Linked DNA regions of Homo sapiens. The protein of the gene in region 1 interacts with the protein of each later gene in a biochemical or structural test. Each region holds a gene or a part of one and is shown in the gene's direction. Other genes may lie near its edges.

Region 1 (4,233 bases):
GGTTTAAGGAGCAGAATACAGAGTGGTGAGAAAATGACTCATGGGTGCAAATGAAGGGGGCACGAAGGAAGAATTAGGAAGAATACTTCCTTCTCTCTGGGGATGAAGCTGTCACTCACCAAAATGTTGGACTTATTAAAAAGAACACCATGAATAGATGACTATGAATTCAACTGCTCAGGAATAGCAAGGGCTGCGGTGTGCAGCCCAGGACAATGCTACCTGCAGCTCCATTAGTGAAGTCATTTCTGGTCTGAAACCCCAGTTTTGCTGGCTTGTCTCTAGCCTATTCCCTGCCCTCTCCATATACTCAGGATTCATAATATGAATAGCTAGGATTTATTGAAAAACTGCCATATGCCAGACACAATAACTCATGGTATAAACGAGTAAAGAGAGGAAGTAACTTGCCCACGGTGAGGTGGGATCAATCCAGCTCTGACCTCGGAGCCTGCTCTTCCAGCCACTATGCTTTTCTATTCTCATTCCCCTCCTGAATTGTATTCACCCTGAGATATCAGTGTTTTTAGCTGCTTTCCTGGCAGAAGTCTGCTTTCGAGGCTGATTCCTATTCCTCAGGCTTCCTTTTACTGGTCGCTGGCAGCTCTACTGTTAACTGCCCTCCCTTTTTTTTTCTTGCCTTGGCTGTAAGCCTCCTTATTCCTGTATTTGCTTGAGCTATCATAGCCCAACATTGTTGGAAATAGAGTAGGTAGTGAAGGGAGGCAGGAAGGAGATGTGTAGGATGGTGCACAGGAACCAGTTCCAGGAGGGCTGGTGCCAGGCAGGAGGCAGATCAAGGCTGAGCTGTCAGAACTCACTCTTCAATAGATTCAAGATGGGTTAAACAGTGTCTGGCTGGAGAGTAAATGTATTAGACATTTTAAAAAAGTGCCATCTAGGAATTTCTTTTGTTTCTTCTATCAGTATCATTTTTGTATGATGCCAGTCCAGAGTGCAGGCAGCATCTGAAGTATTCACTTGTTAATTTACTGAGTCATTCAGCCAGTGGGGGAAGAAGGAGCTCCAGATGCGAGTGTCCCCACAGAGCCTGCAGAAGGACAGGAGGCAAGGGGGTTGTGGTGCGTCTAAGGCTGGAAAAAGGCCATGGGGGAAAGAGGAAGCTGCTAGAGATCAGTCCAAAGCGGTGGGCCTGAGGTCCTGCAAATCTTGCTCAGGATCTGAGCTGATCCTTTGGAGAATAGAAAGTGGCTGAAAGTTTTCACGAGGTGTGACATGGTCAGATTTGTGTTTTAGGAAGAGGACTCTGCAAGACAGAGAATGGATCAGGGCAGGGGCAAGGTATGGTTGTAGGAAACCATTTTGTAGAATTTACATTTCAGTGGTCATTCAGGGGAGGGTGCTGGTGGCTTAGACCAGGTCAGTGGTGGTGGGGTTGGAGAGAAACAGGCGGATTTTAGAGAGATTTTGGAGATGGTGATTAACGGGCTGGGAAGTTGAGGGATGGGAAGGAGACAAAAATGTCGTCTGAATGTTTGGCTTGAGGGGTTAGGTGGTGGGAATGCCATTTGCTGTATTCAAATAAGAGAGGTTGAAAGAGGAGGAGGTGGGGGGAAGGTGAATTCAGCTCTCTACATCTAAGGGGGTTGTCTAAAGGACATCCTGGGATCACCAAGCAGGAGCTCAAGAAACGGGTCTGAGCTTAAGACATGGCTGTGGAGGGGATGGACTGATGGTTGGTAACTTTGGAGCATGTAGAGTGATTTGAAGAGGGAGCCAGGGCAGAGAGAAACCCAAAGACCACTGACATTTGGCATTGCCTTTATTCATTGTTACAAATAATACCATGGCAAATATCTTTGAATATACATCTTTGTCAATTATGTTCTTGGCATCAATTCCCAGAAGAGGAAGACCCTGATGGCAGGAATGGACATCCCTTGGCTTTTGATACAGATTGCCAAACTGCTTTACAAATCAGCTGTCGCAAATTGGCCACACATAAGTAAGGTCTCTGAGAGGAACAGTGTCATTGCCACCTCATGGGCACTGAGCGCTCATCATCGAAGCCCACTTGAGGGATGAAAATGGGCCTCGAGACCACGTCCACTAGCAGCTCCTTGGATTATAGGCAGGAGTGGACAGTTTTTCCATATTGTTTAATAAGGAATCACCGTTTCTTTTATGACTTTTCTTAGTCTCACTTTCTCAATTACCTACTGCTGTTGGGCCCATAAGATTTTTCTCTCTGATTCTTTGCACAGAAATAGTCACTTTCGGTTTGACCTTCATCCCTTATCCCAGCTGGCTGTATAGCTCTTTGTAGATATCACTGTGGGAAGCAACTTCCTGACTCAGGGCCTGAGGAGGGGTATGTGGTAAATAAAGCCCAGGAGAAGAGCTTGAGACCAGAGTCCTCTCCCTGAAACCACTCGGAGTGGGATTCTGGACAAGCCTTCACCCTCACACCTTGGCTGTCTCCCATTTCCCATCTGTGCTACAGCAGGTCTCCTGGGTCTGTCAAGTGTGAGTTAAGGACCCCCTCTTCACTAACCAGTATTTTTAATGGTCTGCTCTGGATGGATTAATTTGACTGAATGAAGCTGCTTCACTTCTAGAGGAAAATTTTTAAACAAAGCATTCACCCAGTGGGGTTTGTGACAGGGCAAGCCACTTCTCAACCTGCATTAGGCTGGGAACCCACGGACGGCCTGGCCCTGCCTGAGTCCCATCAGCCAGAGGTTTATCCCTCAATCATCACTGCAGGAGGAGAGAAGGCTATGCTCTCCGTGAAGGGGGAACTCTCAGGCCTGTTCAGCTTCTGCATCCCTCTGAAGGCTGCATTTCAGTGACGCTGGCCACCCTTGTACTAGGTACCACCTGCCCCACCAGCAACATCCACATGCAACACGCCTCTGTGCATCCTATTTCCTATATGCTTAGAAATGTTCCCTAGGAGGCAGAGAATTGGCATTGCTGGGACTTGGCAAATACATGTTCTCAATTTTGATAGATGGCTCTGAAAAATCTATACCAATTTAATTCCCATGTTAATGGGTGTTATGAGAGGGCCTGGTCTGCAGCCCCCACCTTGCTAACATCAAATATTTAAATTTTTGACCCTCTTGATAAATTCTCATTGCTGTTTTGTTTTCCCTGATTTACTAGAAACACAGCAAATCTTTTCAAATATTTATTGAGTAGTTGTATTTTTTCACCTGTTTATTTCTTAACTTTTAAATTAAAGAGTTGTTTTTTTCTAATTGATGAGTAAATAGTAACCCTTTTGCCATTATATATATTTTCTCCTAATCTGTTGCATATTTTTGTTTACATTTAATTTTCATATATGGTCAGATAAAAAGTTGCAAAGAAGTTGCAAAGAGCACAGAGAAGTCCCTATACTCTTCCTCCAGTGTCCCCCAGTGATTATATCTTACCTAACTACAGCACAATGGCAAACCCAGACATTTGACATTGGTACAATATGTGTGTAAAGTACTATGCCATTGTAATACTTGTGTAGATTTATGTAACCACTACCACAATCAAGATACAAAACTATTCTATCGCCACAAAGATCTCCCCCAGCTCCCATTCTACTCCCTACCACCCTGCTTCTACTATCTCTGAGATCAGTCTCACAAGCTGTGACCTTTTGAGACTGGTTTTTCTCATTCAGCCTAATGCCCTTGAGATCTAATCAAGCTGTTGCACGTATCAATAGTTTGCTCTTTATTGCTGAGTAGTATTCCATGGTATGAATATACCACAATTTGTTTAACCATTCACCAAATGAAAGACATTTTGACTTAACAGTTTTTGGCTATCACAAATAAAGCTGCTATTACAAATAAAACACACACGTTCACATGCAGCTTTGTGTGTGGATATTCATTTTTTTTCCTCTGGGATAAGTGCACAGAAGCACAATTGCTCAGTTGTATAGTAAGAGTATGTTTAGTTTTTCTCTTTTTTAAAAAGAAACTGACAAACTCTTTTCTGAAGTGGCTGTACCACTTACATTCCCACCATCAACTTAGAAGAGATCCAGTTTCTCTGTATCCTCATAAGCATTTGGTATTGTCACTTTATTTTTTTTTCCTGTCATATAGGTGGGGAGGGATATCTCATTATAGACTTCATTTGCCTTCCCCTTATGGCCAGTGATGTTGAACATCTTGTCATGTGCTTATCTGCGATGTGTGTATCTTCAGTGAAATGTCTTTCCATGCCATTTGCTCATTTTTCTAATTGGATTGTTTGCTTTCT
Region 2 (4,233 bases), on another chromosome or scaffold:
ATCAGGGCTCTTAATTTCATTTTTGCAGAAAAAAAAAATCTCTTTGCTTTCTTATAGAGTGACTCAGTAAAATATCAACATCCAAACATGGCAGGATTGGTGACACACAGAAATGCTGTGTAATAGATTAATTCCTCCCTCCCACATTTATAGCTGACCTAAATTGTCTTCTACCTCTTAGGTGTTCCTCCTAACCTGGTTGTCATTACCAAGCCCTTCTGCATACATCATTAACAATAAATCCACAGATAGTTTTATTTAATAATGCTTATATATATATATATATATGTATACATATACATATATATGTATATACATATACAATACATATATATACAATACATATATTGTATATATGTATACATATATACATGTGTATACTCATATATATACATATATATGTATACACACACACACACACATATTCATAGCTGGACTGTGTCAACTCGGCAGATCAAGGTGAGGATGTTGTTTGCTTCCCCTTCTTGGGGTCTGTGCAGTCTTAATTCCAGATGCTACGTGTCACAGCACTTCTCCTGCTGGGCACTGCTCATTGAGGTATGGTGTTATGTGACTGCCACTCGAACCATTGTTCTTCCAGTTACGTGAGGAATTTGACCGTGGGATTGATGTCTCTCTGGAGGAGGAGCACAGTGTTCATGATGTGGCAGCCTTGCTGAAAGAGTTCCTGAGGGACATGCCAGACCCCCTTCTCACCAGGGAGCTGTACACAGCTTTCATCAACACTCTCTGTGCGTAATACAGCCATATGTGGGAAAGTGGCCCTGGAATACTAAGATGTCCAACTCATTCATCATAACTTTATGCATATGTTTCCTGATAACTTTTTGTCCTTATTTATCAATCTCTAAAGAGTGAGCTATTTGAGGGAATTTCTCAGATTTACCCTGGGAATAATTAGCAAGAAGAAAGTTACAATAAAACAAATGGAAATAGCCAAGAAGAATTTGAGATGCTTTCAAATAACCCAAGAACAGTAAAAAGTACTATGAGTTAGTGCTTAGAGTACCAACAAGAGTTCACATTGAGTCTGTGCCTAAAAATGAGTTTGTGTTTCTGGTACGAAGAAGGAGGGAACCACGAGAACCCAGAGTGAGAAAGGAGGGCAGCAACATTCCAGGAGAAGCAAGATGCCATAGCCCAGTGCCAGGGCTTTCAACATAGCTGCTTCTGGGCTGTAGCTACAGATCCCATGAAGAAGAAAAAAAGGAGGAGGTAGAGGAGAGATAGGCCAAACCTGGGTCAACCTCCATACATTTCTTCCTCCAATGCTGCCATTCAAATAGGATCACAACGGAGAGAGAAGACATTGGCTTTGCTGTATCTTGGTTATTGCCAACAAAATATCTGTCCCTTGTGAATTGCTCAACAGAAAAGAGCCTTAAATCCATTATAAACTCAAATTTCAGAATGTTCACCAATTTTCAGCCATTGTTAATAAATATTTACCAAAAATGGAAGACTGAAATCCTTAAACTAGGTGATGAGTAATGCCAGGGAAGGGGGGAGAAGAAAGTAAGGGAAATTGAGTTACCTTTTTTTTTTTTTTACCTGGATTACAGTTATTTTTCTAGGTATTACACTTCTCGAGGTCTAATTTGGCTTTATATCTTTCATAGAATCTTGCTGGTAAATTGCTAAAGCAATGGGCAAATGAGTGAAGGCATGAAATGGGAATTGCCTTGATAATCCCTTTCTTAAGACAATTGAGAGGAGGCCTTTCCTCTGTGCCTGAATAGTATGGGCTCCCCTTTTATTTGAGTACCTCTTTTTGCCTTGCTTAGTGTTGGAGCCGGAGGAACAGCTGGGCACCTTGCAGCTCCTCATATACCTTCTACCTCCCTGCAACTGCGACACCCTCCACCGCCTGCTACAGTTCCTCTCCATCGTGGCCAGGCATGCCGATGACAACATCAGCAAAGATGGGCAAGAGGTAAGATGCCTTTGCTGCCATAGATGCCGTGACTCTTCCTCTCCCCTATTTTAAAAGGGCATACCACCAAAATGGCCATTTTGCCTGGAGGTAATGATGTCTCCCCTTCTCCAACCTAGCTGTCTCTGTAGGAAGAGACTAATGCAGGGCCTTCTCTGGAGGCACAGTTCCTAAAAGTGCATGGGCCATGAGCCTCCTTATATGTTTCAAGTATGCTTCCAAATGAGGCTGTCATTTTCCATGGTGAGGCTTTACTCAAGACTCTGAACTTCCGTTTGTAAAGAAGAAAAACAGTGAACTACAGAAGTGCTTGCAACCATGTAAAAGTGGAATGATGGGGGTGGGAGGAGATTGTTATCCTTATAATTGATTTTACCTGCTTCTATAACTTGGAGCCCAAATATGATGTCACCTCTTTATTCTTCCAGTTTATCCCTGGAGCTCCCATCTGCACTATGAGCAAGAAGTCTAGTGTCTCCCTTTCAAGGGATCCTTTCCTTTCTTAAACTCTCCCCCCAAAACAGGGACTTGCTCGATGCAAGGGAGGGTCAGTCCTGCTTCCAAACCAGGTGTGGAGGAAACTGGGTCTGATCTGCTGACCATTGCCATTGTGTCTTGATGTCACATGGTATCAACTGCTCAAAGCAGGTTGTACATAGTCCCACAGACTCTTTAGAAATGTTCTTGTTGGATCTGATCCCCACTCAGGCCCCAGTGTGCCCCCCCCCCGCCCACCAAATCTAAGATCTTGGGTTCTGGTTCTCTTTGGTTACACTCATATATTTCAAGATTTTTTTTTTTGTTTCACCCTTGGACAAATGAGATGCTGGCTTGAATTTTAAGTTGCTTACTTATGGGCAACGTATTTAATCTTCACCTTAACAAGAGACACCCCCTTCCCTCTTTGATACCATGCAGTTATACCTCTCCCTGACCTCGGATTCCTCAGGAGGTTTTAGACTCCTTAATAAGCTAACATGCACTGTAAATCAATAAGAAGGGGCCAGAGGCATTCCAAACTTACTTAACCACAGAAACTTTTTTGTAAATTCTTGTTAAACAAAGCTCAGCTGCACTGCAGCTTCAGTTCTGTGTTTGTCAAATTTCTTTCCCAAAGAACGTGGTTATGTATAATTTTTTTCACTCTAATCCAGAAAGGCAATTCTGCATTTCTTCTCGTCCTCCTCCTTACGGGTGTGAGAATGGAACTCTCCTGACTTAGCCATTTATCTCTATAGCAGTTATAATTAGTGAAGCCCCAGATGGCTTCAGGTTTCATAATGTGGCACTGACACCTTATTTCAGCATACACAGCTCTTTGATGGGCATACTATAATTCTCATAATTGTTAAGTAGTTTTATTACTCATTTGGATGCCAACCTCTATCAACTACAGTTATAACAGAAGCTGTAGCATGATCTGCCTAATTGCTGGGGGAAAGCAGAGCTCTGTGTTTAAAGGTACTCCAGTTACTTCTCTGACATTTCTTAAGTACTGTGTGAGAAGGAGAAAATTGGGTCTCAGGTAATTAGGAAGGCATTGAGGAAAGCAAAAGTTCCAATCGAACTCATTGTTGCCCTTTTAGAATCATTTTCAGACATTCTTTCCATTCAATTGCTGAACAAGTCTCCATTGCCTATGCCAAAAAGAAGAAAATATTCTTGGACAGGTGTAAATGAAACAGCATGCTGGAATATTAGCTACCATTTATGTCTCTCCTTCCATGAGCTGGCTTTGTGCTAGGGGAGATATATATATATATATATATATATATATATATATATATATATATATATATGCATGCAAATACATATAAATATATAAATATATGCAAATATATATATATATATATATATATATATATATGCAAATCCTCTTAACAGGCAAAAGAGATATCACTGTCTCCATGTTTCAGAAGTGAAAACTTAGGGCCAGGGGAGCTAAGTAACTTACCTAGCAACCCACAGAGAGCTTCCACTTAAGGTTGTACGAGTGGCATATTAGTGCATTTCACAACTCTAGGGGAGGTGCCATGGACCCCATAGTCACTGGAGATTTGCAGAGTTATTAGGACAGTATCCCAGTGGATGATAGAAAAAGATCTTGAAGAAGGACAATGTCGTTATACTGGTTAATGGGTTGGGTTGGTCCCCTTACTAGCAAAGTCCAAGCTGTGCATAGAACCTGAGCCAGTCTAAGAGAAAAGACGTACAGAATAGGAATTAGAAGAAAAAAAAAATGTACTGGGGTCTAGGTCATGGTTTCTCAGCCTCTGCAC
Region 3 (3,740 bases), on another chromosome or scaffold:
ACTGGCCTCTCCCCGTGTGTGTGGGCACCACAGTCCCTGGGCAAGCAGGGTGCTCTGGGACCGCACTTCATCGAGCTCACGAGCCAGCTAGGCTCTGTTTGTGATAGAAAAATCAAGACCATGTTAATGATCGTAATAAAAGCTTTCTACTGTCGTTGGGGTGGTGGGTGGGGCTGGGAAGAAACTGGTTTGAGCTTTTAGAGTTTGCCTTTGTACCTTAGAGATGTGTCTCAGGGCCAGGCATGGGACCTGCCATCGAGGGTTCCTCCCCGCACCCTCGATTTTCCTGTTTTGCTTCTCTCTCCATTTCTGTCCAGGCCTCCGCCCAATTCCACAGTGAGGGGTGGTTAGGAGCTATAGGCCGGGATGGCTCCTTGGGAAGGGAAGTCGGGATCCCAGGCTAGGAGGAAGCTGGCAGCCCCGTCCCCACTGGGCCCACAGTGTGAGTCGTGCCTTAGAGACTCCGGGTTGTCCTGTTCTTTCTGGGCTTGCTCATCTCCCCCCAACCCTGTCCCACCCCACCCCTCCCATACCTCCACTGCTGAAGTTCCTCCAGCCCCTCTGTCTGCCTTGTGAAGGTGGCAGGGGCCAGGTCTGCCTGACATAGGACCACATCCTGTCCCTCCCTCACCTGGAGCAGCACAGCAGAGTTCAGGCAGGGCACAGCCAGGCCCTGGTCAGCGCTGAATGGCAGAGGAAAGATCTTAGGAAAGGAGAGGAATCGCCACCCCCTCCTGCCAACTGGGATGACTGGGGAGGGCCACGCTCATTCAAAGCTGAATCAGAAACCAGCCGTGGAACAGAATTCCTGCCGAGTCTTCCAGGGCCGCTCCTCCACCACCCTCCCCCAGGTTGAGGCACTATGGCACCCTCATCAGGAAGAGGTTTGGGGTCCCCTTGTTGTCACTGCTGGCTCTGCCACCCCATCTTGTTCATGGCAGCTGGTTGGGTCAGGTCCATGGTAGAGCCAGGCCCTTCCCAGGGCTGCGGAGAAAACCTGCTCTCTTCTAGTCGGGCTTCTCCAGAAGCCAGTAATCAGAAAGGATGTGTCTCCTGCTCCAACTCTGCCCCCGAGACAGCTCAGAGCCAGAAGGCACCCCGAGACAGCTCAGAGCCAGAAGGCACCCCGAGACAGCTCAGAGCCAGAAGGCACCGAGGACTCTGGCCCAAGTGGGGAAGCTGAGGCAGAGAGCAGAGGGGGTCATGCAGTGAGTGGGTGGGGTGCAGGAGACAGAGAGGGGCTGGGGGCGTGGGGTGGGGGTGTCTGCCTCTTCCCTCCACCTCCTCCCCTCCTTAGCAGCTGAAGACTCAGCCCTGAGGTCTGGGGCAATGGAAGTCAAGACACCCGACCCCTACATCCTGGGGTAGGCCCGACTCAGCATCCTGTCCCAGCTTCAGCCCCACACTCATTTCTGGCATAGAAGATTCCGCCGAGGCAGCTCTTTCCTCTCGGGGTCTGCCAGGGGTGCCTCAGCTGGTTCCTGCTCCCAGGCCTAGCCCCGAAGCCTTAGGGGCCTTCTCAGCCTTAGCCCTGGGTACTGGGGTGAAGTTGGCAGGGGAGAGCTTGACACTTCGCCTCCCTGATGGCCATGCTGAGGGACAGTGGTGACCCTGGTCACTTGGTGCTGGTGTAGGGGCCTGTGCCCTTCCAGGGCCAGTGAGACAGCCTTCTACTCCCCCGACCCAGAGCTGAGTCCGAGGACCCCAGGCCCACCTCCTGGCCCTCTTGGAGGTCTGTGCTCTTACCTCCCAGCCCCCACCCTGCGGGAGAGCAGCCCCAGCGCCTCATCTCCCCAAAGGCGGCAGATGCTTGATTCTCCTGCCCTCTTTCTTCCTTCCCTCGTATTTATTTATTTATTTATTGCTTGTGCTAAAGACCAAAATAGTCTCCCTCTTTAGTGCACTTGAAGCGGGAGGGCGGATGGGATGAGCCAGGAGCGAGGAAGACTTGGCCCCTGGGGAGTGTGTGTGTGGAGGCGTGTGCCTGTGTGAGCCTGCATGCATACATGTGTGGTGCACACATGCACACTCGGCTCTTCATGTGTATGACTGGGTTAGTAATACAGATACGTGATCTATACGTGTGTGTGTGTGTGTGTGTGTGTGTGTGTGTGTATGCAGGCGGTTATGTGTCTGTCTACCCCCAGGTGTTTCCGTGTACAAGTTTCCTGTGAGGGAGGGCACCCACCCATCAGGTTGGGCACTGGCACAGGTGAACCCCACAGTCCCCGACCCTCTGCCCTGATTATGCACGTCTGCTCCTGAGTGGAGCTTGTGTTCCAGGATGAGACATCTGGAGGTGAGCGTGTGCGTCCGGCTCGTGTGTAGGAGGCTGTGTGTGTGCCCATGTGAAACCGTGTACTTGAGTGTGTGTCTGTGTGCAGCCTATGCCTGCTGCTCAGAGCACGGTGGCCACCCCCTGAGCCTCTGCTGGTGCTGTGCTGCGTGGTCCCCACCCAGAGGGTCCTGGGGGGCGGGGAGGAGCCACCGTTGGGAGGCCCCTGTACGGGGTGTCTGCCCTGCGTGAGGGCATAGAATGTCAAATTATTTTAAATGGTGAAACTGGAGAGTTTTCATGTTATTTTCAATACATAGCAGTATCTAAAGACGTAGGCGATGAGACTAGACCACATTAAATGCATTTTGATCTCTTTGAGGTCCCCTGTGTTGAGATGTGTTTTCTGAAGTTCCCCTGCATGGCTCCACAGCGTGCTGGGCGTCCGCCCGGCTTCCTCAGCCTCCGCCTTGGGTGGGGGTTTCCTGGGGCTTCCTCATGGGTGAGGGTGGGGCATGGTGGCAGCTGTTGGGAGATGGAACAGAACTCAGCCTCCTTGCAGCTCCCAGTGGTCTCCAGCAAGCACACAGGGCTTGTCCCATGATGTCACCCATCCCAGGCGGCAGGGCCGAGCCTCCTGCCTTCCCTTCCTTCTGCAAGGATGTGCTGGGTGCCTGCTGTTGCAGCAGCGCCCTCCCCAGCTGGGGGAGGCTGACCTGAGACAGGCAACTCCTTTCCCAGGAGGGGAAGCCCTGCTCCAGCTTGTAGCAGGCAGGGGCTGAGGAGGAGTTTCAGAGCGTGCCAATGTCTCCACTGAGGTGACGAGACAAGCCTGGAGTGGGGTGAGGGAACACACACGGCCCAGTTTTGGGAAACTAGACTTTCATCTGTACCTTGAGGCTCAGCCCCAGATCTCCAAGGTCTTCAGCAGGGACTTGTGGGGAGAGAATTCCTTCCCTTCCCAAACTATGTGAGTGGAGAGTTCTCCACTCCTCTGCATCAGCAAAGGACTCAGGGCACCCTCTTTCTGCAGGATTTCGATGATGATTCCAGACAACCCCGGATAAGAATCCCCTGCCTGAGTCATTCCTGGGTGATGGTGCCGTGCATGGCAGAATGTGGAGCAGGGGCTTGGGTGCCAGGGCCTAGGGGGTCATGAAGGCTTCCCAGTGGGAGCTCCCTTGGGTTGGACTTGGGGTGACCCGGGGACCCTGGAGGTGGCTTGGTTTGGTGGGGACCTCCTTTCTGACTCTGGGGCCCTCCTGGGACCCCAGTAGCAGGATCAAGGCCAACTGGGGCCAAAACACGGTAGCATCTGTCTTCACTCAAGCCCTCCGGGCCATTCCCATGGCGCTGACTGGTAGGCATGAGGCCCTGGCCCCAGTTGGTGCTCAACAAATGCTTATCGTAGAGTCTCCAGGTGCGCTGTCCTGGCTGTACTAATGCCGCAAAGGGCCCTGGGTCA
Region 4 (4,233 bases), on another chromosome or scaffold:
CATGAGTACCCTGGGTGGTTTCATTAAATTGCAGGTTCCAGGGCCAGGCACGGTGGCTCATGCCTGTAATCCCAACACTTTGGGAGGCAAAGGTAGGAGGATTGCTTGAGGCCAGGAATTTGAGACCAGCCTGGACAACATAGCAAGACCTGTCTCGACAACAATAACAACAACAGAAATTAGCCAGGTGTGGTGGTGCACGCCTGTGGTCCCAGCTACTGGGGAGGGGAGGCTCAGGTCGGAGGATCGCTTGAGCACAGGAGTTGGAGGTTACAGTGAGCTATGATTGCATCAGTGCACTCCAGCCTGGGTGACAGAGCAAGAACCCGTGTCTTAAAAGAAAAGAAAAACAGGAGGCTGGGTGCAGTGGCTCACATCTGTAGTTCCAGCACTTTGGGAGGTGCAGGCAGAGGCGGAAGCGGAAGGATCACTTGAGGCCAGGAGTTTGAGACCATCGTGGGTAACATAGTGAGACACCCATCTCTTACAAAAAATTTGGAAAAAAAAAAAAGCCCAAACAAATAAACAATCTAAAACACACACACACACACACACACACACACACTCTCTCTCTCTCTCTCTCTCTCTCTCTCTCTCTCTCTCTCTCTCTCTCTCTCTGTCTCTCTGCAGGCCTGCTGCAGAGGGCTTGCCATTCTGTATGTCTTTTTTTTGTTGTTTTGAGACAATGTCTATTGCCCAGGCTGGAGTGCAGTGGTACATTCTTGGCTCACTGCAACCTCTGCTTCCCGGGTTCAAGTGATTCTCCTGCCTTGGCCTCCTGAGTAGTTGGGATTACAGGTGCACGCCACCATGTCTGGATAATTTTTGTATTTTTAGTAGAGATGGGATTTTGCCATGTTGCTCAGACTGATCTTGAACTCCTGAACTCAAGTGATCCACCAGCCTCAGCCTCCCAAAGTACGGGGATTACAGGTGTGAGACACCAGGCCCGGACAATTCTGTATTTCTTCTTTTTTTTTTTTTTTTTGAGACGGAGTTTTGCTCTTATTGCCCAGGCTGGAGTGCAATGGTGCGATCTCGGCTTACTGCAACCTCCGCCTCCCGGGTTCAAGCGATTCTCCTGCATTTTTTAGTAGAGACGGGATTTCTCTATGTTGGTTAGGCTGGTCTTGAACTCCTGACTTCTGGTGATCCACCCACTTTGGCCTTCCAAAGTGCTAGGATTACAGGTGTGAGCCACTGCACCTGGCCCAATTCTGTATTTTTAACAAGCTCGCAGGTGCTGCTCCATGGAGCACATTTCTTATGCCACTGGGTGTAGACGAGAGGGTTGTCCTCACACGAATGAGTGGACTGTATCATCCCCACGGATGTGTTCTAGCCCTGAGAACTGGGGATGGCTAGCGGCCACCAGAAAGTGGCACACATCACTCCTGCTCACACCCCAGAACTTGGTCATTCAGCCACATCAAGGTGCAAGGAGGTTAGGAAGTGTGATCACCAGCCAGATGGCCGTGTGTCCTGCTGAAAATCAGGAGAGCCACTACAGAGACACAGGGCACAGAGGATTCTGGGGACGCTTAGCATCTCCCATAGGGAGTTGGGTGTGTGAAGGAGTGGGGTCTTCTTCTTGAGGCTACCTGGGTGGAAGAGAGCTAGCTGTGTGTCACTTCCCTGTCAGGTGGGGGAAGTGAGAGTGGGTCAGGGTGTGGGCAGACCCAAGGGACAGAGTTATGGGGGAAAGCGTTTGTGTGTGTGTATATCTATATGTAGAGACAAGGAAGGCAGCCAAAGGCAAGGTGGCATCTGGTGCCAGAGAGTGAGGAAGCTACCATCGATGAGGGTCTTGTCAACGGGCACAGGAGCCAGCTGGCAGGGGCATCCGCCAGCTACATTTAAGACAATTTAATAGTACAGACAGGCCAGGCGCAGTGGCTCACGCCTGTAATCCCAGCACTTTGGGAGGACGGGGCGGGAGGATTACCTGAAGTTAGGAGTTCGAGACCAGCCTGGCCAACATAGTAAGTCCCCGCCTCCACAAAAAATACAAAAATTAGCTGGCCATGGTGGCATGTGCCTGTAATCTCAGCTACTCGGAAGGCTGAGGCAGAAGAATTACTTGAACCCGGAAGGCAGAGGTTGCAGTGAGCTGAGATCGCTCATTGCACTCCAGCCTGGGTGACAGAGAGAGACTCCGTCTTGGAAAACAAAAACAAAAAACATGGCCAGGCGTGGTGGCTCACGCCTGTAATCCTAGCACTTTGGGAGGCCGAGGCGTGTGGATCACGAGGTCAGGAGATCGAGACCATCCTGGCTAACACGGTGAAACCCCATCTCTACTAAAAAAATACAAAGAAATTAGCCAGGCGTGGTGGCGGGCGCCTGTGGTCCCAGCTACTCAGGAGGCTGAGGCAGGAGAATGGTGTGAACCCGGGAGGCGGAGCTTGCAGTGAGCTGAGATCGCGCCACTGCACTCCAGCCTGGGCGACAGAGCGAGACTCCGTCTCAAAAAAAACAAACAAAAAAACAAACAAACAAAAAAAACCCAGTGCAGATAAGAATGACTCTAAGTGATTCTACACATTGAATTATTATTTTTTATTATTATTATTATTTTTGAGACAGATTCTTGCTCTGTTGCCCAGGCTGGAGTGCAGTGGCATGATCTCAGCTCACTGCAACCTCCGCCTCCCAGGTTCAAGCAATTCCCGGCTAATTTCTGTATTTTTAGTAGAGACGTGGTTTCACCATGTTGGCCAGGCTGGTCTCGAACTCCTGACCTAAAGTGATCTGCCTGCCTTGGCCTCCCAAAGTGCTAGGATTACAGGCGTGAGCCACTGCGCCCGGCCTATACATTGAATTAAAAAAAGAAAATTCATGTTTAGAAAAAAAAATGTCATTGTGACCCCTCCTTGATGCTTGGTCCCTGCTGCAAACCTGAGGTGGGACTTTGCATCCTAACCCAGCAGCTAAGTGGCAAGTGACTTTGGCAAGTCATTTGCCCTGTGCTCACGTCCCCATCTCACATGATTTTCATCCCTGTCCTCCTGGCGTCTTGTTTTGAGGATGAAATAGATGACACCTTGAGAGGCTCTGGGAGGCCAGAGTGGCTCCTCTGAGTCAAAGACCCTGGGGAGGAGATCTCAGGACACCTCTTTCCAGAGCTGCCCTGCTGGGGATTAATGACAATGTGAGCACCACCCAAGCAGGAGGCTTCGGGGGCACCTAGAGCACAGAATTCCTGAGAATCAGGCTTGGAGGACTATCAGAAAAGCAAGCAAGGTCATGGTGTCTGTGGGGGGTGGTTAAGAAAGAGGGGACAGGGTGAGGGGCCAGGCATGGGGCTGGCAGGATGTTCTGGAATGGGGTGTCATTTTAGCAAGGGCTATTAGAATTAGCCATGAGCAGCCGGACGTGGTAGCCCACACCTGTAATCCCAGCACTTTAGAAGGCAGAAGCAGGCGGATCACCTGAGGTCAGGGGTTCGAGGCCAGCCTGCCCAACATGGCGAAACCCCGTCTCTACTAAAAATACAAAAAATTAGCTGGGCATGGTGGCAGGCACCTGTAATCGCAGCTACTCAGGAGGCTGAGGCAGGAGAATCGCTTGAACCCAGGAGGTGGAGGTTGCAGTGAGGTGAGATTGCACCACTGCACTCCAGCCTGGGTGACAAGAGCGAAACTCTGTCTCAAAAAAAAAAAAAAAAAAGAATTAGCCATGAGCACTCCCAGATCCTGTGGATTAAGTGACATGGCTGGGATGGTCTCCTTCTCTGGATATTTTCCAGTATGTCTGTGTCTGGCCTCGGGGACAGAAGAGGTGAAGGAGGGAAGGGATACTTGAAGCTGGGAAGCTGGGATCCTTCAGATGTCCAAGAAGTGCCCCTGATCACTGCCCCTTTTTTTGCCAGGCAACCATCGGCTTGATCAGGAATCTGGCCCTGTGCCCAGCCAACCATGCCCCGCTGCAGGAGGCAGCGGTCATCCCCCGCCTCGTCCAACTGCTGGTGAAGGCCCACCAGGATGCCCAGCGCCACGTAGCTGCAGGCACACAGCAGCCCTACACGGTATGTGAGCTGGTGGTGCCTCTGACAGCCTTCCTGGGGGGTCAGGGTGTCCTCTGTGGGTGTGTGTGTGAATGGGGAGGTCAGTTGCAACTGATGCCAATTCCAAGAACCTGTGAAGTTCATTCGGCTGTCATGGGGAGGAGTTGTGGCCATGTCCAAGGCACCTGTCCCATGCCCCCTGCCTCCTCTCACACAGGATGGTGTGA
Region 5 (4,866 bases), on another chromosome or scaffold:
CTGGAAAAAGCAAATTGGTGAGGACCTCTGTTCTGTTGACTTACATAATGACGTTGGAGTCCTCCTTCTAGTTGGTCACTCTGCGCAGGGTTTCACAGCACCCATGGGGACAGGGTGAAATGTTCATAACATCTGGGCAGCCCCTGATCTGAGAAGCAGCGAATGTGGAGCAGAGAGGATCCCTCTGTCGTATCCCATCTCCTTCATCCCTCATTTCCTTCGGGATCAATTCCTCCCCTGCTGGGATTGGAAGCTTCCTGGGCAGCCTCTTATTTTTCCCTAATCATGTTTTCTTCCGTGGGTCTGATCCTTTCCCACCCGTGCTCCTTCTTTTCTGCCTTGCAGTCTGCTTTAGATGGTGCCTGTTTCCTTTTTAGTTTCTGACCATCCTCTGGGAAACTAAAGTTCTTCAGGAGGCTGAACTTCTCCTTCCTTGGAGCATCAGAACCAGGTAATGAGAACACCTTTCCAACTTCAAGACCGAGTTCACCTGGTCTGTTGATTTGCTGCTCAGCACTGCCTACCCAGTAGATGCCTGCTGGCTTCAGGGGAAGCTCTCTTCTCTCCCCTTTCTTCTTCCCACTGGGAGGGCCGAGCTGCTGGTCAGGCTTCCCACAAGAGTAGTTTGGCTCTGCCCTGGGACTATGGTCTTCCTGCTTACGAAAACAGTCGGAGGGGAACTTCATCTGTGGGTTCCTATGTCTGCTTTCCCACAGAGTCTGAAACTGCCTTCTTACCCCTTTTGATATAGTTGGTCCCCGAGGTTCTTAATACTTTGGCACAATATCTATGAAGGAATCCCTTTAAACAAGAGAAAATGCTACCCTGAGTGAGGGGTGGGTCTTCAGGCTTGGGATCTCAGACTTGGCTACCTGAGATCCAAGAGATCCAGAATTCTCAGCCTTTGGGGCTTCACATTGAGTTATTTGAAAAATGGGTAACATATTGGCCATTTTTGGTTTTTAAAAGGTAGAAAAACAAAAAACCTAACCAAACAACAACAACAACAAAAACACAAAAAATGCAGAACAGGGATCGGGGAAAAGGAATTTGCTCTCATGTTCCTGACTGCACGGGTGAGAGTTGGCATCTAACAGAAACAGCTACTCCCAGGAGGAGCCCCCGGACCAGGCTGGGACGCAGTCTGGGCATGGCCAATGGTGCAGACCCCTGCCTTCACCCCTGAACACACTCCTTGGCTTGCTTGCTTTTCATAGCATCCTACGGGTCTTATATACTACACTGAGCATGATACTCTCCGAAACTGGGTTGGAGAAGGGAACAAATCCTTAACTATCTAGCCATGTGTCTCCCGTATGTCTCTCTGGGTCTATACATAGACTCATCTCATCATTACTAGGTTTTGAGTTAATATTATTAGCTCCATTTTACAGATGAGAAAACCAAGTCTTAGAGAGCTTGGCAGAGGTCACATAACTTATTAGAAACTGAGCTGGGAATTTGAGATGGTTCTGTCTTTCTACTACACATGCGGTTTTGCCCTTCCATGTGGCATTTCTCCACGTCATCTTTCTCTTTAGCCCTGGCTGGCCTTAGTGGTTCAAGGTGATCCACTGCCTTGCATTATCACCAGCTCACACCCCGCTCTGGATTGGCGTGAAGATTTTCACTTGAGTGTGTCACTGAATGATGCCATTGGAAGCTTCTGCTGATAAGCGTGGGACCATCTGCTTGGCACATCTCAAATATTTTCAGCAGTGGGAGAGCAGCTCTGATTCCTTCAGAGATGAGAGGCTGCAGCCATCCTTCGAGATGTTGGGACCGGAGACCCTGCAGGCTGGCTGGGCATTGATGCCCCAGATGTGAAGGGGCAGCCAACCTGTTGGCCACGTCTGACCCTTCCTGAGCAAATGACACCAGTGAGTCTGCGTCCCAGTTTTTCATTGCTTAGCTGTCCTTGACAACCAGAGTAAGATTTTCTCTCTTTAAAAAGCTATTTCTTGGATAACTCTTTTCTGTGCTGGTTTTTCTTTCTTTTATTTTTTTCGGTGTGTTAGATGTTTGCCGTTGGTGTGTGTTGGCAAAAACTTCTCTTTCCTCCTGCCTTTGTTTTGGAAAATTTACTTCTTTGCTGAGTTAACTGTTCCCAGACATTGTTTTTCAACTTCAGGGTTGAAACTTCGCAGTAGCGTTTTCTTTTTTAACTCGTTGCAGGGGAAAGAATCTTAGGATCAATTCACAGTTTGAATGGTGGACTTGGAGGTTTTCAAGGCTGCTTAATGAAAGCTTATGAATGATAAAGAAGTTGAGGTTTGAAAGAGTTGTTACTGAATTTGATTCCTCTGGAGAAATCACTTGGCTATCAGCTCTTTGGCATCACAGGGGCAAGCTGTATTGATTTTTCTTCATTTTTCCTTAGTGGGCACTGGCATCAGTATTAGCTTCTGTTGCTTATGAAGCCGTATGCATTCCTTTGGTGACAAGATGTCTGTTAAAAGGAATCTCCTGCCCAGTCTTGATCTTTGGTATGAGCGTCTTAGCAACACTTCCCAGCCAGGATACTTAGGAGTAATTTGGTGAGAGAATGTATAGTGTGTTGTTAGATTGCTATGGGTGCAGCAGTAAAAAGGTGGTAAGAAGCTGGCCTCTAGCAGAGTGCCACGGCCTCGGCACTACTGGCATTTTGGGCTGGGTAATTCTTTGCCGTGTGGGCTGTCTTGTATATTATAGGATGTTTAGCAGCATCTCTGGCCTCTACCAACTAGATACCAGTAGCACACTCCTCTCCATTGTGACAACCAAAAATATCTTCAGGCATGCCAAACATCCCTTAGGGGACAAAATCACCTTCCCCCCTTTTAGACCAGGGCTCTAAATTGATCCTGTGGTATGTTTGGAAAGGGAGCAAGAAGTCTCTGCTTCTGCGTACAGATGGCCCTAGTGTGGGGAAGACGGGAATGATGCATTTAATACCAGGACAGATGGTCCTGCCCTGTACATTCCCATCGGAGCCCTTGCCTGCCATGGAAATTCCATCTCACAAATGGGTTTCTGTTTGTCCAGGTGACTGCACACACACACAGGGAAGAATTTGCCCTTTTCTCTGGATCTGCACACCTAGAAATCCAGCCTAGGGTCAGGCTGTCTTTTAAGTTGCCTGGGAACAACAGGCGCTTTCAGATGGCCCACTCCCCCAGCCTGAGTTTTATTGGCTTTTCTCTCTTTCCTTTTTTCTCCCTGCCTTTCTCCCCAGCCCCCTCTTTCTTTCTTCTAAGAGTGATGTCCTAGGCTGGGTATCTGGGGCCATGGAAGGACTGTGCTCAACTGAATGGGAATGTGGAAGGGGTTGTTTGCTTCTGAGGTCTCTAGAGAACACTTGAGCAGCATAAATGTATGGCATTTAGAACTCTCTGCTGACTCTGAGTCTCCTTGTTTTTTCTATCAGCTCCACCACCCATCTGTTCCTCTCACTTTCATTGAGAGGTAATTGCAGCCAGCAATCTCAGGTGGACCTGGCAGGACACAGGCTCTGCAAAGCCCACATCCTTACACATCAATGGAAACCACCATGCTTGTTTTCCCTGCTTGTTGATTCATTATCTCAGTTTGGCATTTCCATGAGACTCATATTGGCAAAGTGCTGTTCAATCTCTAGCATTTCTTATACCCCAGCCTTTCAAACTACATTAAAATGCCAGCATGTGAAGCAGTTGAGACCCAGTGGGGTTAATCTGCTTGATGGAGGACTTGCCTCTCATGGTCAGTTTGACTGAAAGTGCAGCTCCCAGGCCAAGCAGCCGTAGGCACAAGCAGAATAGGCTGTGGCCTCTGCACTGTACTTTGATCAATGTCAAAACCCCTCTTCTCAAAAGTCTCTTCTGCATTCAGATGCGATACTGCCCACAATTCTTTGAGTTTTGCAGGAAGGTGGTGGGTGTTAAGTCCTACTTTCCACCATGGTCACCCTGGCTTATGGTGTCTTGTGTGAGGTGCTGGAGCCTGAATAGGCAAGGATCATCCCCATGGGGGCAGCCACGCCGGGGTGAGGGCAGTGGCAGTGGTGACATGGCAGGGGATGTCAGTGCTGGGCAGGGCAGGATATCTGCATGGGGGGTACAGGGAACTGGTGCTGGGTGTTGGAGCTCCTGCAGTGTGAGGTCTGTGTCTCAGGGTAGGGGGCAGGGGGAGCACTGGTCCAACAGGAAGTAAAAGGGCCCAACAAAGTGAGGAGGGCATCTGTGCAGGGGCAGGGGAAGAGCAGTGGCAGACATAGGCAACCATTCATAGGTGGGTTGATCAAATGAGTAAATGCATAGAGGGCCAAGGGAGCCAGGTTTCTCAGAGAAGGGAGTTACAAATATGGAGAGGGAGAAAACTCAAATGAATTCACTGGTGGTGGGTCAAAACTGGAGATATTGGTGTCAATTTATGATTATATGTATATATTTTATAAAGATATAAAAAGACATAGAAATACAGCCATAGGTGTGTGTATGTATGACTATACATAAATGTTATCTATGTACATATATTCCTTAGCCCTGCCACTGAGAGGGGCTGGGAGCAGCGACAGCCTCCATGCAATGAGCACATTTTACACCCAGATCTTGGCTTCTAAATATAATTATTTACTGAAAGGAACCAGGGCTCCTTGGAGAAATGGCTGATTCTAGGCACTAGGGCAGGGGACATACAAGATTATGGTAAAGTGTCCAGTTTTTTGTGTTGGAAGGCTATTAGGCATATTGGAGGAAGTGTGGACCAGCGGGGAAGGTTGGATTGCTGTTTTGGCCCACTGAGACTGCTCTGCCACCTGATGAGGCTCAGTTGGAGATACCCAGGACATTTGGGTATATGGGTCTGACATGCTGGGGAGATGTGTGAGCTAAAGCTGTGCATTTGGAT
Region 6 (4,233 bases), on another chromosome or scaffold:
GAGACTAAGGCTAGGAGAAGGGAATGACGGCCTCAGGGCCACAAAGCTTGGGAGTGCAGAGCCCGAGTTCATCTCAGGCAAATTCAGAACAAACTTTCTGAGAGAAACAGTGGGGAAAACAGTGGGAGTTTAGGGAAGATGGGCCATATTGTCATTGGAATATCCAATTGTCTGCTATCTGCCAAAAAACAAACAAACAAACAAAAACCCAAAACTAGAAGAGTATAAAATCCAGTAGAGGAATCATGATTTAAAACTAGGGCTCTGGTTTAAAGCCATAAAACCTCAGTTCACACTAGCTTAATGAAAAGGGTAAGTCAAGGGGGTTCATTAGCTCATGCATTTATTAGCTCATACCCATGGGATCTCCCAGGCATGACTGATCCAGGCCTGGGACCAGGTACCATCACCAGATCTCCACTTCTGCCTCTTGGCTCTGCCATGTTAGCTTGATTCTCCAATGGAGTGGCAAGAAGAGCCACCAATACCTTCACACTTACATTCTAGCATGTAGCAAAGCCAGCAGAATCTCCCGATGGTTCCAGCTCTCAAGTACCCAGCATGGGGTGCTATGTGCATTCCTAACCCTGCCATGGTAGCCAAAAGACCAGAACGTATTCGTTGGCCAGGCCTCATTCACCCACCCAGCCTCGGAGTAGAGTCAGTTCTGCACAAATCACACGCCCGAACACAAGCAAAAAACTTAGGAAGAAAGAAAATCAGTACATGGAAGAGATCTCTGCACTCCCATGATTATTACAGCACTGTTCACAATAAACAAGATTTGGAAGCAACCTAAGTGTCCATCAACAGACGAACTGATAAAGAAAATGTGGTATATATACACAATGAAGTACTATGCAGCCATAAAAAAGAATGAGGTACTGTCATTTTCAACAACATGGATGTTAAGTGAAATAAGCCAGGCACAGAAAGACAAACTTTACATATTCTCACTTATTTGTGAAAGCTAAAAATTAAAACAATGTAACTCATGAACATATAGAGTAGATGGAAGGTTACTAGAGGCTAGGAAGGACAGTGGGTGGGGGAAATGGGGATGGTTAATGGGTACAAAAAAACAGAAAGAATAATATCTATTTGATAGCACAACAGGGTGACTATAGTCAATAATAATTTAATTGTACATTTTAAAATAACTAAAAGAGGCTGGACACAGTGGCTCACACCTGTAATTCCAGCACTTTGGGAGGCCAAGGCAGGAGGATCATCTGAGGTCAGGAGTTCAAGACCAGCATGGGCAACATGGTGAAACCCTGTCTCTACTAAAAATACAAAAAAAGTAGCCAGGCGTGCTGGCACACATCTGTAATCTCAGATACTCAGGAGGCTAAGGCAGGAGAATCACTTGAATCCAGGAGACGGAGGTTGCAGTGAGCCAAAATCAAGCCACTGCACTCCAGCCTGGGCAACAGAGTGAGACTCCAACTCAATAATAAACTAAAAAATAAAATAACTACAAGAGTAGAATGGATCATTTGTAACAGAAAGGATAAATGATTGCGGGGATGGAGACCTCATTTACCTTGATGTGATTATTATGCATTGCATGCCTGTATCAAAATATCTCACGTCATCCAGAAATATATATATCAGGCCGGGCGCGGTGGCTCATGCCTGTAATCCCAGCACTTTGGGAGGCCAAGGCAGGCGGATCACCTGAGGTCAGGAGTTCAAGACCAGCCTGGCCTACATGGTAAAACTCCATCTCTACTAAAAATACAAAAATTAGCCAGGGGTCGTGGCACATGCCTGTAATCCCAGCTACTCAGGAGGCTAAGGCAGGAGAATCGCTTGAACCCAGGAGGCGGAGGGTGCAGTGAGCCAAGATCATGCCACTGCACATCAGCCTGGGTGACAAAGCAAGACTCCGTCTCAAAAAAAAAAAAAGTATACACACACACACACACACACACACACACACACACACCTAAAATTAAAAAATAAAAAATGCTTTAAATTAAAAAAAGAAAGAAAATTAGGGTGTTTCTGACCAGATGACAGGGCAGCAGATGCAAAAATCATTGTGGTGTGGCAGCAGGAGCATCACAATTTGGACCAGATCATCTGCGTGTCCTTGAACAAGGTGCTGTCACTTCTCTGAGCCTTGGTTTCCCCCTGAGTCAAAGGAAGCAAGTAAACTCCAGCTGATGAGACTGTGTATGGCAAGAATGCCGCATGTGCTCAGGGCAGGGTCAGTGCTCAATAAAACCAGCTCTCATCTCTGCAAAACAGAGAACCCTGGCCAAGGGGGAGCAGGGTTGAAGATTGGGGTAGAGGGTGGAACGGAGAAAGGATTTCTTTTGTGGCACAAAGAAGAAGGTAAATTGTTTCTTCATCTCATTGTCCCAGCAGCTGTGGCCAATCATCATGTGGCTAAGGACAAAACCCAGACGCAGCCCTGGCCCACCATTTGTATAGACAGAATATTATAAATTGGGTATTTGAAAATTAGGACCTGCTGGGCATGGTGGCTCATGCCTGTAATCCCAACACTTTGGGAGGCCAAGGCAGGCAGATCACTTTAGGTCAGCAGTTTGAGGTCAGCCTGGCCAACATGGCAAAACCCCATCTCTACTAAAAATATTTTAAAAAAGTTAGCCAGGCATGGTGGTGGGCACCTGTAATCCCAACTACTAAGGAGGCAGAAGCAGGAGAATCACTTGAACCCAGGAGGCAGAGGTTGCAGGGAGCCGAGATCATGCCACTGCACTTCAGCCTGGGCGACCAAGTGAGACTTTGTCTTAAAAAAAAAAGAAAGAAAGAAAATTAGAACCACTAGGAAAGCCAGGGCTCTGGCTTTCAAATACTCTTGCCCTGGTCCCCAGAGTGGGCACTGACCCAAGATCAGAAACCTTTTCTCTCCTCTGAGCACCCTCCTCTGTCTCCATTCCTTATCTTCTGCTTTCCCTCCCACAGGGCTTCCAGAGCGACCCTGTCCGCCACCTGTCCACCTACCTATGCCTGTCTCTGGTGGTGGCACAGTTTGTGCTGTCCTGCCTGGCGGATCAACCCCCCTTCTTCCCTGAAGACCCCCAGCAGTCTGTAAGTCACCAAGTTCCAACCTCATTCCTGTTCCACTTTGAGGTCTCAGTCTCCCCCAGGTGACCAAAAGTCTTTAATTTTTTTATTCATTTAGCCATTCAGCAAAAAGTGTACCACATTTCTACTCGATGCCACAGTTGGCAGACTTTTTCTATATGGGCCAAGAGAAAATATTTTGGACTCTGTGAGCCATACAGTGATCTCAGTGGCAATTACTCAACTCTGCCATTGAACGCAAAAGCAGAATATGTCAACAAATTGCATGGCTGTGTTGCAATAACACTATTTGCAGAAACAGGCAGTGGGCCAGATTTGGTCATAGTTTGCCAAACCCCGCTATGCCCTAGCAAGGGCATAAGGATCTATGGTGAACAAGCAGATAGAGTTTCTGTTCTCACGTAGCTACTGGTCAAGCAGGGGAACCAGACACTGGTCACAAAATTAAACAAATATGTTGAAAATTGGATGGTCACAGTGGCTCATGCCTGTAATCCCAACACTTTGGGAGGCCAAGGCAGGTGGATCACTTGAGGTCGAGAGTTCAAAGCCAGCCTGGCCAACATGGTAAAGCCTCATCTCTTCTAAAATTACAAAAATTAGCCAGGCATGGTGGTGCACGCCTGTAATCCCAGCTACTCGGGAGGCTGAGGCAGGAGAATTGCTTGAATCCGGGATGTGGAGGTTGCAGGGAGCCAAGACTGTGCATTTGCACTCCAGCCTGGGCAACAAGAGCGGAACTCCACCAAAAAAAAAAAAAAAAAAAAAGAAGGAAAAAGAAAATTACCCTTGGGGTAAGTGCTCCATAGAAGAAGCTCATGAGAGATTGAGAGATTTACAATAGGTAACAGTGAAGCAGTCTGTGAAATCAAGAAACAATTCTTTTGTGGAAGAGACTGATCTGACATCATATAAACAGATGTTCAAATGGGGCCAGATGCAGTGGATCATGCCTGTAATCTCAACACTTTGGGAGACCGAGGAAGGAGGATTGTTTGTGCCCAGGTGTTCTAGATCAGACTAGGCAATGTAGTGAGACCCCATCTCTACAAAAAGGTTTTTAAAAATAGCCTAGTGTGGTGGTGCATGCCTGTAGTCCCACTACAGAGTAGCTCTGTGGAGACTAAAGCAGGAGGATTGCTTGAATCCAAGAGATAAAGGCTGCAGTGA
Region 7 (4,233 bases), on another chromosome or scaffold:
AGGCCACTAGTATGTACTCCCTAAATTCATGATTATCATGGTCTCGGAATTATTATTTATCATGGCTCTGCTTGAACACCAATAATAAATGACTTATCATATATTGACACATAAGAGGTTTTTTCCAGTTAAAAAGTTTAATTCCAAACGTAAACCTGATGTAGGTATATATGTTTATTTGCTTAGCAGATACTTACTTACACCCGGTATGTGCTACTATCACTATTTTAGATCGAAATATGGCATTGTTTCAGGCTGAAATGAAAATGGCTTATGTGGTAAAAGCTTATTAGTTTAAACCCTGTTAATGTAAAAACCTGGACAAAAGCCACACTGAAGTTTACCGTGTACCCTGGCTGTGCAAATAAAAATACATGACTAAGAACATGAATAGCACAGGAAGGATGAACAAACGAACTGACAGAACATACTCGTTAGGGTACTTTAAAGGCATTCATTTATAAAAGAACAGTTGACTTAATCACTATAAATTACTCTTCTACAAAATAGTGCTTTTTAAAACCCAGTTTTATTATATACACCCTGAAAACAATAGTACTTCACTAAAGTATTCCCTTAGACCCCCCATGGTTCATGATGATATTCCAGTTAGTCTGCTATTAATAAGCGTCCACTAATATTGGAAGGTTTGACCCTTTGGATCTCTTTCTGCCACCCAGTTATAAATCTTATCATTTGATAATGTCAAAACCATTAAAACACCCTTTTAAAGTCCAATGAGCGGAGGAGCTACAGAGTTGTGATGGTGGCAGATGATGTTTTTTCACAGTGAAAGGCACCTTTCACTGTGGAATTTCACTATATGGAATTCGTAGTCTGATTTGGGATGGAATCCATGTCTGCCACTTTCTAACTCACCTCTGGTAAGTCACATAACCTTTGTGTGCCTCAGTTTCCTCACTGGTGAATATGGAAATAACACTCAGATCTATCCTGAGGATTCCCCATAAACCGCACTTCACAGTGTGTGACCTAGAATAGGCACTCCCTGTAGATTAACTTGCTTTCCTTTCTTGCTTGTCTTGCCACATGTTTTCACCATCACAGTTATCTTTTTGGAAAACAAACATCCAGAATGACAACGTAAAATGAGGATTTCTCCCTGGACAGCCACATGCTTTATGTAACGTAAATGACCTACTCTAATTGCAGGTTATATACAGGCATGTAGAGGACTTATGATCGCTGCTGTCAGCCTGGGCTTCTTTGGTTCCATATTTGCGCTCTTTGGAATGAAGTGTACCAAAGTCGGAGGCTCCGATAAAGCCAAAGCTAAAATTGCTTGTTTGGCTGGGATTGTATTCATACTGTCAGGTAAATAGTAACTTTCTTCCAAACAAGGTACTTGATGATGTTAATGAAATCACACTAACCATAGTGCTTTCCCTCTAATATTTGTTAGGGCTGTGCTCAATGACTGGATGTTCCCTATATGCAAACAAAATCACAACGGAATTCTTTGATCCTCTCTTTGTTGAGCAAAAGTAAGTACTCTTCTCAGTCTGTTTCCAGCTCACAGGAAGTGTATATAAATTAATATTCTCAACCAAGAGACATGAATTTCCTATATGACTTTTGAAAGTAAGACATACTGATAAATGGTAACTGATGACATCATTCAAGATTAAATGTGTCATATGCCACATACGCAAAATATGCATTTAATTAGTTTGCTAGTGTTGCAGTGTCTTGTCTCGAAACAGTTCAAGGCATCAAATTTAGAACTATAAACTTCATCGTTTGCTGTACATCATGAAACTGAGGTCAAGTAGAGGAAACGTGAAAGGTGTCAGACGGAGAGGAAAGAATGATGCGGTGTGCGAATAGAAAATTAAAACCTTGCCTTGATTGTTGCCCACTCAAAATGATATTTGCCAGATGCTAGTTTCTGGGTCTTTTAAATTTGCTGTATTAACTACTGTCTTAACAAGCTCCTCCTAATAAACCTTTATAAAGAAACTGTATACGATGCAAGGTTTTTGAAAAATGCTGTAGGAGCACGGCACCTTTACCCAAATGTGGCTGGTCAGTCTTGCAGATGAATGCTTTGGAATTAACAGATCAGTTTGCTTGTTGGTGTTGTTTTTAAACTATGGGCTGTTGCTTTTTATAGTTTCCCTAGGCTTATTTCTTTGGATTGGGAAAACCCCAGGGATACCAAATCAGAATTAATATATTAAATATTTTGTCTTACCTAAGAATGTATCTACATCCCTCTTTAGGAAGCCTCACGTACGTGTGTGTGTATTGCTATCAATGAGGCTGGTAATTTTATTTTAGACTTCAGGTCAAATTTTATAGAATTTTTAAGAAGTATATTACTGAAATAGCTGGTCAGCTGGGCTTTACTTTTTTTCTGGTGGTTTTAGGAATCTTCAGGAAATTGATTTTCTAGTTCTGGCTTAAGTGTACCTTACGCATAAACAGTAAATGCTTATATCATGAAATAAAATGAAAATAATAGCTAGCGCATGTTGAGTCCCCACCAGGAGCCAAGCAGAGCACTGCAAATATTATTTTATTGTGTTATTTTATTTTATTCTTACAAACAACCTTATAAAGTAGGTCCTCTTGGTACTCTTTTTTTAAATTGAGGAAAGAGGCCAAGTGATGTGTTCAAGGGAACTTGGACCAAACTAGTAGGCTGATTGAACTGGGATTCAAACCAGGCAGTTGAACTTCAGAACACTGGCTCTTAAAAAGCATGATTTCTAATATTCCACTATTTTGTAATTTTTGTGACAATATGCTACATGTACTGTTCATCAAGAGGTTTCTTTCGTCCTTTTTTTTTTTTTTTTTAAGAGTTAGGGCCTCTTTCTGTCACTCAGGCTGGAGTGTGGTGGTGTGATCTTAGTTGACTGCAGCCTTGCGCTTCTGCACTCAAGTGATCCTCCCACCTCAGCCCCCCGAGTAGCTGGGACATATATGTGCCACCACAACCAGATAATTTTTTTTTTTTTTTTGAGATGGAGTTTTCGCTCTTGTTGCCCAAGCTGGAGTGCAGTGGTGCGATCTCGACTCACTGCAACCTCCATCTCCCAGGGTCAAGTGATTCTCTTGCCTCAGCCTCCTTAGTAGCTGGGATTACAGGCACGCACCACCATGCCCAGCTAATTTTTTTGTATTTTTAGTAGGGACAGGGCTTCACCATTTTGGCCAGGCTGGTCTCGAACTCCTGACCTCAGGTGATCCACCCGCCTCAGCCTCCCGAAGTGCTGGGATTACAGGTGTGAGCCACTGCGCCCGGCCCCGGATAATTTTTACATTTTTTAACGGAGACAGGTCTTGCTATGTTGCCCAGAGTTGTCTCCAGCTCCTGATCTTCAATGATCCTCCTCCCTCAGCCTCCCAAAGCACTGGGATTACAGGCATAAGCCACCATGCCCAGCCTTTTCTATACATTTAAAAATAGTTTTTATTCAGAAATGTTATTAAATGGGAAAGAAAAACAAATTTTATTAAATGGGTTTTAGACCTCAATATAACTTTTTTATCCCCTGCCTATAATACAAAAACATGTCCTAATTTATTAATTTTCTCCTACTTATCTTTCAAATGAGATTTGCACAGATGTACATGGCAGGAAACATTGAAATAAAAACCAAGGCTGTATTTCTGAAGCTTAGAAATATTTTAATGATATTTAAAAGAAATATTGTATTTAAATGATACATTTTTATTTTAGGGTTTGATATCATAAATATGCAGCAAACCTGTACTTCTCATGGTTTATTTTATTAAACACATTTCTCACTCTTCCGCATTATCTTTTCTATATTACTGGTTTTATTTTCCTGACAATTATTAAGGATATCTTTGTCTATATCTTAAAAATCATTGGACTCTTTCCTCAAATGGTCAAGGCTAATTTGTGTACAAACAATAACTTAAACCTATCTTTGCGTGACTGTTTTCTGTCCTTACTATAGCTCAGTCACCTAATTCAGTGTAGTGCCATTGGAATTTCTTATTCTCTTTTCAGATTTTGATTAAACTCAGTTCAGTAATTAGGTGCTATGAGAGGCTTTCCTCTTTTTCAACCTCTTGGTGCTACATTGGCTATTCCATTCTCATTAGCTTCTTGGAATTTCTCTTTCTGTCTCTGCCTACCCACTCTCTCTCTCTCTCTCTCTCTCTCTCTCTCTCTCTCTCTGTCTGTATTCTCATCTGTAAAACAAAGATAATAATAGCATACCTCTCACAGAATTG

The links.
Region 2: the proteins of FRMPD2 (region 1) and ARHGAP6 interact in a test that uses a peptide from one of them, tested with the Homo sapiens proteins (one large-scale study listed by IntAct).
Region 3: the proteins of FRMPD2 (region 1) and KCNJ12 interact in a test that uses a peptide from one of them, tested with the Homo sapiens proteins (one large-scale study listed by IntAct).
Region 4: the proteins of FRMPD2 (region 1) and JUP interact in a test that uses a peptide from one of them, tested with the Homo sapiens proteins (one large-scale study listed by IntAct).
Region 5: the proteins of FRMPD2 (region 1) and MAS1 interact in a test that uses a peptide from one of them, tested with the Homo sapiens proteins (one large-scale study listed by IntAct).
Region 6: the proteins of FRMPD2 (region 1) and ABCC6 interact in a test that uses a peptide from one of them, tested with the Homo sapiens proteins (one large-scale study listed by IntAct).
Region 7: the proteins of FRMPD2 (region 1) and CLDN10 interact in a test that uses a peptide from one of them, tested with the Homo sapiens proteins (one large-scale study listed by IntAct).

The regions. Positions count from the first base shown.
Region 1 is NC_000010.11:48,268,039-48,272,271, reverse strand, and holds part of FRMPD2 (FERM and PDZ domain-containing protein 2), read left to right. Parts: intron 1-4,233.
Region 2 is NC_000023.11:11,175,821-11,180,053, reverse strand, and holds part of ARHGAP6 (rho GTPase-activating protein 6), read left to right. Parts: intron 1-601; coding exon 602-752; intron 753-1,805; coding exon 1,806-1,954; intron 1,955-4,233.
Region 3 is NC_000017.11:21,417,215-21,420,954, forward strand, and holds the end of KCNJ12 (ATP-sensitive inward rectifier potassium channel 12), read left to right. Parts: 3' UTR 1-2,656; downstream 2,657-3,740. UniProt on the Homo sapiens protein: Inward rectifying potassium channel that probably participates in controlling the resting membrane potential in electrically excitable cells. Probably participates in establishing action potential waveform and excitability of neuronal and muscle tissues.
Region 4 is NC_000017.11:41,758,509-41,762,741, reverse strand, and holds part of JUP (junction plakoglobin), read left to right. Parts: intron 1-3,871; coding exon 3,872-4,027; intron 4,028-4,223; coding exon 4,224-4,233. UniProt on the Homo sapiens protein: Common junctional plaque protein. The membrane-associated plaques are architectural elements in an important strategic position to influence the arrangement and function of both the cytoskeleton and the cells within the tissue.
Region 5 is NC_000006.12:159,889,254-159,894,119, forward strand, and holds the start of MAS1 (proto-oncogene Mas), read left to right. Parts: upstream 1-1,734; 5' UTR 1,735-1,880; exon of another isoform or gene 1,881-1,930; intron 1,931-4,866. UniProt on the Homo sapiens protein: Receptor for angiotensin 1-7. Acts specifically as a functional antagonist of AGTR1 (angiotensin-2 type 1 receptor), although it up-regulates AGTR1 receptor levels.
Region 6 is NC_000016.10:16,213,157-16,217,389, reverse strand, and holds part of ABCC6 (ATP-binding cassette sub-family C member 6), read left to right. Parts: intron 1-2,940; coding exon 2,941-3,066; intron 3,067-4,233.
Region 7 is NC_000013.11:95,558,959-95,563,191, forward strand, and holds part of CLDN10 (claudin-10), read left to right. Parts: intron 1-1,173; coding exon 1,174-1,335; intron 1,336-1,423; coding exon 1,424-1,505; intron 1,506-4,233. UniProt on the Homo sapiens protein: Forms paracellular channels: polymerizes in tight junction strands with cation- and anion-selective channels through the strands, conveying epithelial permeability in a process known as paracellular tight junction permeability.